2 separate regions of the Homo sapiens genome follow, and region 2 is linked to region 1. Evidence: fine-mapped expression QTL. Tissue or cell type: whole blood. Region 1 holds a variant in brackets; the other region holds the start of a gene. All regions are shown on one strand. Distances are from middle to middle.

Evidence for each region. PIP is the estimated chance that this variant, and not a neighbour inherited with it, causes the effect. A credible set is the group of variants that fine-mapping cannot tell apart.
Region 2: FAM110A starts here. The variant in region 1 is the best candidate, but not a certain one, in a credible set for the expression of FAM110A in whole blood (INTERVAL, PIP 0.57).

What each region holds. Positions count from the first base shown.
Region 1 is chr20:876,652-882,025 of GRCh38, forward strand. ANGPT4 (angiopoietin 4) reads right to left here. Exons shown (of 9, transcript NM_015985.4): 5 at 4,520-4,635; 6 at 3,096-3,197; 7 at 1,510-1,676. Among named protein-coding and RNA genes, the nearest start is that of ANGPT4, 37 kb to the right of the region's middle. RefSeq lists a silencer at 2,192-2,392. The variant G/C (reference allele first, on the strand shown) is at 3,002.
Region 2 is chr20:830,714-836,087 of GRCh38, forward strand. It overlaps FAM110A (family with sequence similarity 110 member A), which reads left to right and starts at 3,002. Exons shown (of 2, transcript NM_001042353.3): 1 at 3,002-3,238. RefSeq lists a silencer at 3,253-3,402 and an enhancer at 4,919-5,018.

The sequences.
Region 1 (5,374 bases):
GGGTCACTCAGGGAAGTAGGGATGGAGTCGGGATTTAAGCCTTTGCTTTAGTGGCCAGTGGCTTAAATGGGACTCAGCATAGTGTTGTAGCTACTCACTGGTCAGGTGTGAGGAGTAGGGGGACATCCAGGGAATTTTTCATTCAGCTCTGGACCTTGCATTATCAGGTTGGTATGGATCCCATAAGGAGGGATGTCAGAACCTGGGCAACATAGGGAAACCCTGTTTCTATAAAAAATACAAAAATCAGCTGGGCATGGTAGTGCATGCCTGTAATCCCAGCTACTTGGGAGGCTGAGGTGGGAAGGTCACTGGAGCCTGGGAGGTCTGGGAGGTCAAGGCTACAGTGAGCTGTGATCATGCCACTGCACTCCAGCCTGGGCAACAGAGTGAGACCCTGCCTCAAAAAAGCCTTTGCTTTGGTGGCCAGTGGCTTAAATGGGACTCAGCTGGAGGAAACAGTGGGGGCATATCACTGAGAAGTTCCCAGAAGTGGAATCAGGCATAAAGTTCAGGAGGACAGAGAGTCATTCAGAGATTCCTTGTGGGGAAGCGACCTTCCCACCAGTGGAGGTATTCCAGCACGGCTGGATGATGATTGCAACTATGGAGGGAATCTATGAAGAACCAGATGACACGTGAGATTTTTTGCAGCCCTGTGAGTGTGAATCCTGGTTCAGAGATAGCCAGGACCCAGGCTTATCTAAAAGATCCTTAAATTTCTCTGAGAGGCAATATCATGTTGTGGAGACATCATGAGTTTTGACAGCAGGGAGATCTGAGTTCAAATTCCAGCTCATTTAACTTGTAACTTTGGGCAGGATACTTAAACTTGGCATCTCAGTTTCCATATTACTAAAGTAGGTACAGTAATGCCTACTTCAAAGTGTTGTGGGGAAGATTAAATGGAATAATGGTGCCTGGAACACAGTAGGTGCTCAATAAATGCTAGTTCCTTTTCCCAAATATACCAAGAACCAGGCTGAGGAAGGGGTGAGAAACCTTGATGATCTTACAAGATCGTCATGTTTAAGCTCATCCTGCTATTGAAGAAGCAGAAGCTCAGAGAAGCCAGACTGACTTGTCCAAGTTCCCAAAGCAAGCTGGAGCAAGGCCACAATGAGTGCAGGAATTTCAACTTCTGGCCCAGGGACCCTTCCACCCAGCCCCAGGGCATAGGACAGGCTGGGCAAGTCACCTCCTTTTGCTTCTGGGTCTCTGTAAAAAGGCTGACTTGGGGTGACTGACCTTGGAAGACCCCTTCTTGCTCCTCGGATGGCAGCACCAATGACATTCTTTCCACTCCACCCAGTGGCTAGGACATGCTGAGTGCTAACCAGCCACCTCCAGATCCCATGACGTGCACCCAAATGGGGGACAGATGGTAGGAACAGGAGACACCCAGAGACTGACCGTTGGAGCAGACTCTGTAGACACTAGCCTGGGGACCCCAGCCCGCCCACTAGCTGAAGACCCCAGCCCCCACAACGGCCTGGGCCCCGAACCCACCTGTATAGCTGGTTCTCACTGCCCAGGTGGAAATGTTCGTACTGGGCATAGGCCTCGTGGCCTTCCCAGTCTTGCAGCTCCACACGCAGAGAGTAGGCTGCCCTTCTGGTGAGCTGGTGCACCACTTCATTGCCCAGCCAGTGCTCCCCAGCTGGGTCTCCGAAGCCCTATAGGGAGGGGAGCGTGGGGTGAGACTCATGCTGAGGAGGAGGCCATGTCCCTGGCTGAGGAGCTGGGCTGGGCCAGGCTCCAGGGCTACTTATACAAAACCACTGTGCTTAATGATCGAGTTCATAAGTACAGTGTAGGCAGGACTGGGAGTAGGAGCCCTCCACCTGCTAGAGGGAAAAGACTAAGGCTTTTGTAAGTGTAAAAGCCTGTTAAAAGTTATTGAAATCACATTCCTCTGAAGTTCAAGAACAGGAAAAAGTAATATTTGGTGACTACCTTTGGTGGAGTATTGACTGGGAGGGGGCACAAAGTGGGCTTCTGGGGTGCTGGGAGTGTTGTACATCTAGCACTGAATGGTGGTCACGTGGTTAAATACATATCTAAAGGCTCACTGAGCCTTACACTTTATTTGTGCGCTTAGACACATGTACGTTAAACCTCAACAAAAATTAAATAAAATATTTCAATCAGCTACATAAATAGTAGAGCAAACTTTGTTCAGTGACAGCGCAGCCACTGCAAGATTTCAGCAACACAGAAATGTAAAACTGAGAGTGTGGGGAATGTCATGTCCCAATGCCCTTGGACAGAACAAGAATTCAGCACCAAGGACAGGGGCACACCCAAGGCCCGCTCCCCAATTTAGTCACGATGCAATGCGGGTTAGCCTGATGGTTAATATTCAGGGTTCTTTTGTGTATTTCTGCACCTGGACACCCTATTCCTCCTTGCCATTTTAATGGTTGTTTAAAGCCCAATTAGTTCAAAACACTCATAACTTAATTTGGTATTTATTTTTAAGTATTCCTTAAATGAACAGCAAGCAGACGCAAATAATAGAACTGCTGTATCACTTTGTGGGTATCTTTTTCTATTTCTTTGGCTTTGAAAACTTTAAGAGCTTTTAAGTATTTTAAGTCAGCTTGGCAAAAAATCCTTTATTCAAAACCTAATTAAAAAATTGGAAAACAATCGGGCTTCTCATCTGATAAAATACATGTGATCTTTGGGCCTGCAATTCCTCGTTAATGAATCTCTCCTGCAGATATGATCATAGACGTATGAAAAGACAAGAAACTTCATTAAAGCAACGCAGTCAGGGTTGACTGGGGGGATTTTTATTCTGTCTCCTCCTTTGTATTCTTTAAAAAATTAGAAATGTATATGTATTTTTTTAAAAAAAATTAAAACAAAAATAAAGCTAAACTTTTTTTCTTAGAACATATGTCAGAACTTTCAGAAAGAACATTCAAATTCAGGTGATGGGGTCCCATAAAGCAGATGTGCACTGTCAGCTTTAGATGAGTTGATTTTTTCTGGG[G/C]GAGGAATGAGGGCAAAGCAGTCCCCTTCCAACAGCCCAGCCCCAGCCCCAGGTTTCAGAGCAGAATGGCCCCTCCCCAAGGCAGCAGGGCTACCTGTTTGTAATCCTTCCAGTTCCGCTGAAAATTCACGGTGCCATTCTCACGGCGCTGGATGAGGGTCCACCTGCCTCCACTGCTCTGCAGGTCACAGAACACCTGGAGGGGGTGGGCAAGGCACAGCTGGGAGCCCTTGGAGGTAGCCAGAGGCCAGGCCTGTGCTAGCCCAAATGTGGCTAAGCAGACAGACCCCCACAGAGCAACAGGTGAGCCTGGGGGTCCTGGGCATCAGAAAGATCCAGGCTTAAATTCCCCACCCATTGTCATCATTTTTCTAAAGTGGTGGGTAAGGAATGACCTCTCAGAGCCTTCCTCTCATTTGTAAAATGGAGATTCATACCTTAACCTCTTTGTGCCTCAGTCTCTCATCTACCAACTGGGGTTGTGAAAATTAAACGAGATGAGTCACGTAAAGTGTTTAGAACAGTGCCTGGCAGTACTAGGTAAACGGAAGCTCGACCTCTTTTTGTTGAAAGGAGAGGTTAGCAGGTGTGTGAGAAGTGTAAAAGACAACCTGGAGACAAACAGAGGCATTCTCCTTAGTATATTAAGAGGGGGTGAAAGGAAATAGAGCAATGGTAATACTAGCAATTTGAGGGCCGAGGAGGGAGGATCGCTTGAGCTCAGGAGTTTCAGACCAGCCTGGGAAACACAGGGAGACTTTGTCCCTACAAAATGTTTAAAAATATTAGCCAGGCCATGGTGGCATGTGTCTGTGGTCCCAGCTACTTGGGAGGCTGAGGCAGGAGGATCACTCGAGCCCAGGAGGTCAAGGCTGCAGTGAGCTGTGATCATGCCATTGCACTCCAGCCTGGGCACCAGAGCAAGACCCTGTCTCAAAAAAAAAAAGGGAATTATGAAGTAGGAATCTGCTAGTTGTTTCCCTTCTAGGCCTGGCTCTCAGACCCTCCCTCCTGACATCCGTGCTCTTCTCTGTCACCCTTCTTATCGGATGACTTGACCTTAAATTTTAGGACAACCTTGGGAGCCACTGATTGAAAATGGTGGCACCTCTATTAGCCCTGGTTTCTAATTTCCCACATGGAGCAGAACCCCAACTCCTGCCTTCAACTGGACTATATGTAAACTAGAAAGAAACGTCTTTGGGCTAAGGCCCTGGAATTTTGGGGGTTGTTTGTAATATCAGCTATCATCATCTTAACCAACACTGAACTATTTTGTGCTGTTCCAGTTAAAGCACCTCTGAAGTGATGCTGGTTAAGGATGCACTTCCAACTTTGGGAACTTCTGCTTATCCCCACAATCTGATCCCTGACTGCTGGGAAGTCAAAGCCACCCCTACACCTCTGGTATTTCAGATACTGGACAAAGCCTGATCCCGATGGGGTGCGGGGTGTCTGTTTGGGAAGCCCTTGGCTCAGCACCCTCTAACAGCCACAGTTCCCAGGGAGCCCCCTAACCTTCCTGGGCTTCGTTGCATTGGACACCTGGATGGTGTAGACACCACTGGCACTGGCCCCAGAGCGCTGGATCTCTGCACAGTCCTGGAACACCTGCTCACCTGCCATTATGAAGGCTGCAAAGGGACAACACAAAAGTCAGTTGGAGGTGGGCAAGGAAAGAGAGAAGGGGCCAAGTGGGCATGCCTGCCTGCTTTGTGCCAGGTTCTGGGTTGGGAGGTGCTGGGGACAGGGAGATGAGTCAGACCTGGGAAGATTTCGTAGAGGAGGTGACAGTAAGCTGGAACCTGTGTAATGAGCAGGAGTTGCCCAGTGGAGAAGGGGAAGGTGTTCCAGGCGGAAGAAACAGCATATGCAAAGGCCCCAAGGTAGGAAGGGCCCTAGTGTGTGCAGAGGACAGGGCATGGGGAGGGGAACTAAGGCTGAGGCCAAGGAGAGGAAATGACTCACACCGTGAGAGAGGAGTTGAGACCAGGGAGGCTGCTTGCTGTATGATGCAACTGAGAGGGTAGAACAAGGCTGGCACAGAGAAGGTGGGGAAGGAAAAGGAGAGACGAAGCTGAGATTTCAGCAGGGCCAAGTCAGCCGTGAGTGCCAGGCTGCGGAGCCCAGATTCTCTGGGCTGAGAAAGAGCACTCTGTCCAGAGTGTGGAGGGGGGCCTGGAGGGGATGAGACTCAAAGCTGGGAGGCCAGAGAGGAGGCTGCTAGAGTTTTCTGGGAGAGAGTTACTGGGGCCTGAACTCCAGTGAGGCACTTCCCATTTCACAGACCAGGAAACTGAGGCCCAAGAGTGAGGCAACTGGCCCAAGGGCACACAGCCAGGTAAGGCAGAACCTTCCTTCTTTGGAGCTCCC
Region 2 (5,374 bases), 46 kb before region 1:
GCTAGGATTACAGGTATGAGCCACCATGCCTGGCCAGCTAATTTCTTTTTAAAATTTTTTTGTAGAGCTGGGGATCTCGCTTTGTTGCCCAGGCTGGTCTGAAGCCCCTGGGCTCAGGCACTCCTTCCACCTCGACCTCCCAAAGTGGTGGGATTACAGGCATGAGCCACCTTATTGTGGTTTCTTGTCTCTTTCTAACCAAATCTTCACTTTATTACTTAATTTCATATCTGTAATTTTTTCTTAAAGAGGTCTCCCTAGGGCTGGACGTGGTGGCTCACGCCTGTAATCCCAGCACTTTGGGAGGCCGAGGTGGGTGGATCGCCTGAGGTCAGGAGTTCAAGACCAGCCTGACCAACATACTGAAACCCTGTCTCTACTAAAAATACAAAAAATTAGCGGGTATGGTGGCGGGCACCTGTAATCCCAGCTACTCAGGAGGCTAAGACAGGAAAATCACTTGAACTTGGGAGGCAGAGGTTGCAGGGAGCTGAGATCGTGCCATTGCATTCCAGCCTGGGCGATAAGAGTGAAACTCTGTCTCAAAAAAAAAAAAAAAAAAAAAAAAAGAAGTCTCCCTAGGCTGAAGCTACCTGCTCAATCTTCTCTTGTGTCTTATAGGATCACAGGATCCCCCTTGCCTTACCTCACTGTTACTCCCAAACAGTTCTCACATGTTTACAAGGGAATGTAACAGAGTGGATCAGAGAATTCATTCTGGATCCAGACCGACCTTAGTTTTCTCATCTATATAATGGGAATAATAGCAGGATCTCTCGCCTTAGATAGTCATGAAGTCCAATGAGATGATGTGTATAAAGCCCTAACACAATGTAGCAGAGGGCACAGGGCCAGGATTGATATTTAGCTGGTCCTCACGGATACAGCAGACTCCCTGTTTATGACAGTGGTTGGCTCTGATTTGGTTGGTGTCCATGCCAGAGTGTACAATCATTATTAGCTATTGATATATTATTAGCTCCCTCCCCTGCCCACCCAGGGGTTTACGCAGTAAGTTCTCAATTATTGGCAATCCAAACAAAGAATAAAAGACACCAGCTGGAATGAAACAGAGAAGCTGGTTCCAAATTGAGCAATTCAGACTGACTGCTATAAAATTTCCTCACCTTAAAGGCCCTTAGAGTTAATTCATTCTAATCCCCCTAAAAATATACTTTTTTGACATGTTCAAGTATTGGAAATTTGGAAAATTCACAAAAACACAAAGAAGAAATTAACTGCTGTGATTATAGATGATTATACACATATACATATGTATTTAATACATATTTATGCTGTACATAGTGTTTTGAAGCATACTGTACTTCAAAAAAATTTGGGAGGGGTGCATTGGCTTATGCCTGTAATCCTAGAAATTCAGGAGGCCAAAGCAGGAGGATCACTTGAGGCCAGGAGTTCTAGACTGGCCTGGGGCAACATAGCGAGACCCGTAGCTTGACATGGTGATGCGGGCCTGTAGTCTTAGTTACTCTGGAGGCTGAGGTGTGAGGATTGCTTCAACCTAGGTTACAGTGAGCTATGATTGCACCACTGCACTCCACCCTGGGCAACAGAGCTAGACCCTGTCTCTAAAAAACATAAATAAACCAATGTTTAATACTTAGCATTTCCCCCTATCTTTAAATATCTTCTAGCTACTTCACTTTTATTTTTATCTTTTTGAGATGATCTCTTGCCCAGGTTGGGGTGCAGTGGCATGATCTCAGCTTACTGCATCCCCCACATCCCAGGTTCAATCTATTCTCCTGCCTCAGCCTCCTGAGTAGCTGGGATTACAGGCATGTGGCACCACGCCTGGCTAATTTTTGTATTTTTAGTAGAGACGAGGTTTCACCACGTTGGCCAGGCTGGTCTTGAACTCCTGACTTCAGGTGATCTGGTCGCCTCAGCCTCCCAAAGTGCTGGGATTACAGGTGTGAGCCACTGCTCCTGGTAGCTACTTCACTTTTAATGGCTGCATAATATTCCTCATCAGAAAGTGGGAAAAATTAGGCTAGGTGGCGTGGCTCATGCCTGTAATCCTAGTACTTTGGGAGGCTGAGTTGGTAGAATTGCTAGAGCTCAGGAGTTTAAGATCAGTCTGGGCAACATGGCAAAACCCCATCCCTACAAAAAATACAGAAAATACCGGGTGTGGTGGTGCACACCTGTAGTCCCAGCTACTTGGGAGGCTGAGGTGGGAAGATTGCTTGACCCCAGGAGATTGAGGCTGCTGTGAGCTGAGATCCTGCCACTGCACTCCAGCCTGGGCGACAGAGTGAGACTCCATCTCAAAAAAAAAAAAAAAAAAAGAAAAGAAAAAGATAAAGAAATAAATAAAGTGTTAATAATTAAAAGTACTTTTAGAGGGTTATGTCATAAGCCTTGACAAGACTTGTTCTGTAAAGCTACCCGGCATGCAAAAAGCTCAATTAAGTTAGCTCCTCCACAGGATGGAATTATATAACCAATCCCTTTCAAGAGGCATTGAAGTTGTTTCCATTATTTTGCTATGATGAATAAGGCTGAGCAATATTAATCTTTGCTCATATCTTTGGTCATTTCCTTTGTAAATTTCGGGACTGCTGGGTATGCACATTTTAAAATTAACTCACTCATCATCATGCAGTTAGGAGAACAGAGAAAGGAAGGGGCTTGCACCGGGTCACATAGGGAGTTAGCGTCAAAGTCAGGACTAGGAACCAGCCAGGGCCCTCTAACTGGAGCTCTTCCAGCTGGGGTCCTAGAGGAAGTCCCAGCTGGCCGCGGGAGGGAGGAGGAGGAAGGGAAAGAACCAGGCGCCGGGGCTGAAGCGGCGGCAGGAAGAAGGTGGGGCCGGCTGGGAGGAGCGGGCGGAGCTGCTGAGCAGCGCCTCTCCTTCGGGCGGGGGAAGCTAAGCGGTCGCCTGGCAACCCTGGCGGCGCGCCGTTCGAACGGAAGCGAGGAACCAATCAGGAAGTCCGGGGCGAACCATTCTGGTGTGAAGGGGGGCGGCGTGCTCACTTCCCCTTCCACGGCGCCCCAGGGACTTTCCCTGCGGTGGGGGCCTTCGACAGTGAGGGCCACCCGCTCAGCTCGACCGCGGAGGGCAGCTCCAAAGGGGACCCCAAAGGTGCCCACGCGGGGCTGGGGCCTCCTGGGCGTCGTTGGGAGCGGCCACTACCGGCCCGGGTCCGAGCTGTCAGCCTCTCCAAAGCCTGCGCGAGAGGAGCCGGGACACGCCTAGCGCGGGCTCCAGGTGAGGGCGCGGGTGGGTCCGGGTGCGACCCCGGGTCTGGGGGCCCCGTTCCCCGAGCGTCTGCTGTCTGCTTTCTCCCCGCGTCGTACCTGCGTGTCATTTCACAGATGAGGACTCTGAGGCTCAGAGAGGCAAGTGTCCCGGCCCGGCGAGCTCTGGCGGAGAATCCAGTTCAAGTCTTTCTGCCCCACCTCGCAGCCCCCTAGTCTAGTCACATCTGGACTTGCCTTGAGAGGCCCAGACGGGCAACTGGTAGTCATTTTCCCAGCGTTTTATCGGCAGGGACCTGTAGACCCCTGGCTGGATCACATATCCCCGCGCCCCACACTGTCCTCGGGATACCCCCTTTGGGCGTCTGTCTTTCCTTCTCCGCAGTCCGGGGTTGGACTCGGCTCATTTGGCGCCTTTCTGTCTACGGGGACAGAGGACCACTCTTTGGGGATCGGACGGGACTGACATTTCTGGGCTGGATGCAGGGGCAGCAGATTCTCCAGCCCCCAGAGCCGCTGCTGGCCTCTTGGGAATCATCCCCAGTTTGGGGAAGGGAATAGAGCCAGTCCCTAAACCAAAGCCACTAGTCACCAGAGACTTTGGAATTGGGAGTGGGGCCGGAATCCCCCCAGGTGGAGCAGCTGACCTAGGCCAGACCCTGCTGTGTCTCCTGGGGACACCCCCTGCCCCCTAGGTTGCTATTGTCAGTCTCCTTTTGTAGGTGGGGAAACGGAGGTTCTAAGAAGTTAAGCCCCTTTTCGAAGTCACAGTCAGACAATGCAGTGGTTAGCTCCTAGTCCCTCTGGCTTCAATCTTAGAATCCTTGACACACAGAATCATGCATTTTGAGAGTCTTCAATCTCTTCATAAGGGAGTTACATATCCTCTCTCCTCTGGAGCCTGCCCCTGGCTTTGGGGGACAGGATCTCCGAGGACTCAGAAAGAAAACAAGGCTTTCTTTTATTCTTTCAACAAATATTATTTATTGACTTCATAAGCCCTGCTCTGGTTCTTGCATGTTTTGGTTTTTTTACTTATTAGCAAATGTATCATCTTCTCCCACTGTGATGCAAGGCAGGGGCTGAGGCAATTGAGCCAGTGCAAAATTTAGGGATGCCCAAAACCTCAGTAATCAAGACTGAAACTAACGTTCATGGACCATTTGTGTGTTCTGCAGGCAGGAGGTTAACTCACACAGCCTTCATGAAGTGCAGTCCTCCCATCTCTCTCTCTCTCTCTCTCTCTCTCTCTCTCTCTCTATATATATATATACACACACACATATATACACACACACATATATGTATATATATGTATGTGTGTATATATGTATATATGTGTATATATATGCATATTTATAAATCATGAAACCACTGCCCTGTCCCTGAGTTGCTCTGTGACATTGAGTAAGTTTCTTCAGTCTCTGGGCTGAGCTAAGAAGTCATGATGGTGCACTCAGGCCTGGGCAGAGGGCAGTCTAGGATAGGAAGTGGGCTTGGCTGTGGATCTGCCTCCCCCTCCCCTTTCTAATCCTGCGTGCCAGGCCCTTCCCCAAGACCTTGCATGTGTTATCTTCCATTCTGTCCTCACTGCAAAATCCTTCATCCCCATTTTGCAACCTCAAGTGCAGACCTAGGCCTAGAAGATCAACTTGGTATCAGTGGGCCTAGATGTCCACATCCACACCCATTCCACAGCCTACTCCCTTCTCCCTTCCTAATGTTAGTGCAAGGCCACCCTGAGCAAGGCTGACTCCTGGGCAGGCCAGGGCACCAGCGTCTGGGAGGCCTCCAGAAATAGCTCAGGGCCTGGTGTGGCTCTGGAGGTGGCCCAGCTGGGTGTCCCTGACCTGGACAGCTGGGCTGAAATTGAGCTGGGGCTGCCCTGCTGGCTGGCCCCTTGCCACTGCCTGGAGCCTTCCCAATCTCCTCTGGGGCAGGCAAGGGCCTCCCCAAATCTAGGCCAGGCTTCTGCTGAAGGGAAAGAAAGAAGCAGGTGGGAGGAAGGGGGCGGGTTGGGTGTAGAATGTCATGAAAATTATAACCTTTGGAAACCACACCTCCCACCCCCTCACCAAAGAATAAAAATCACTAACACCTCTTGAGCATTTACTATGTTCTAAGTACTTTACAAGTATGAACTCAT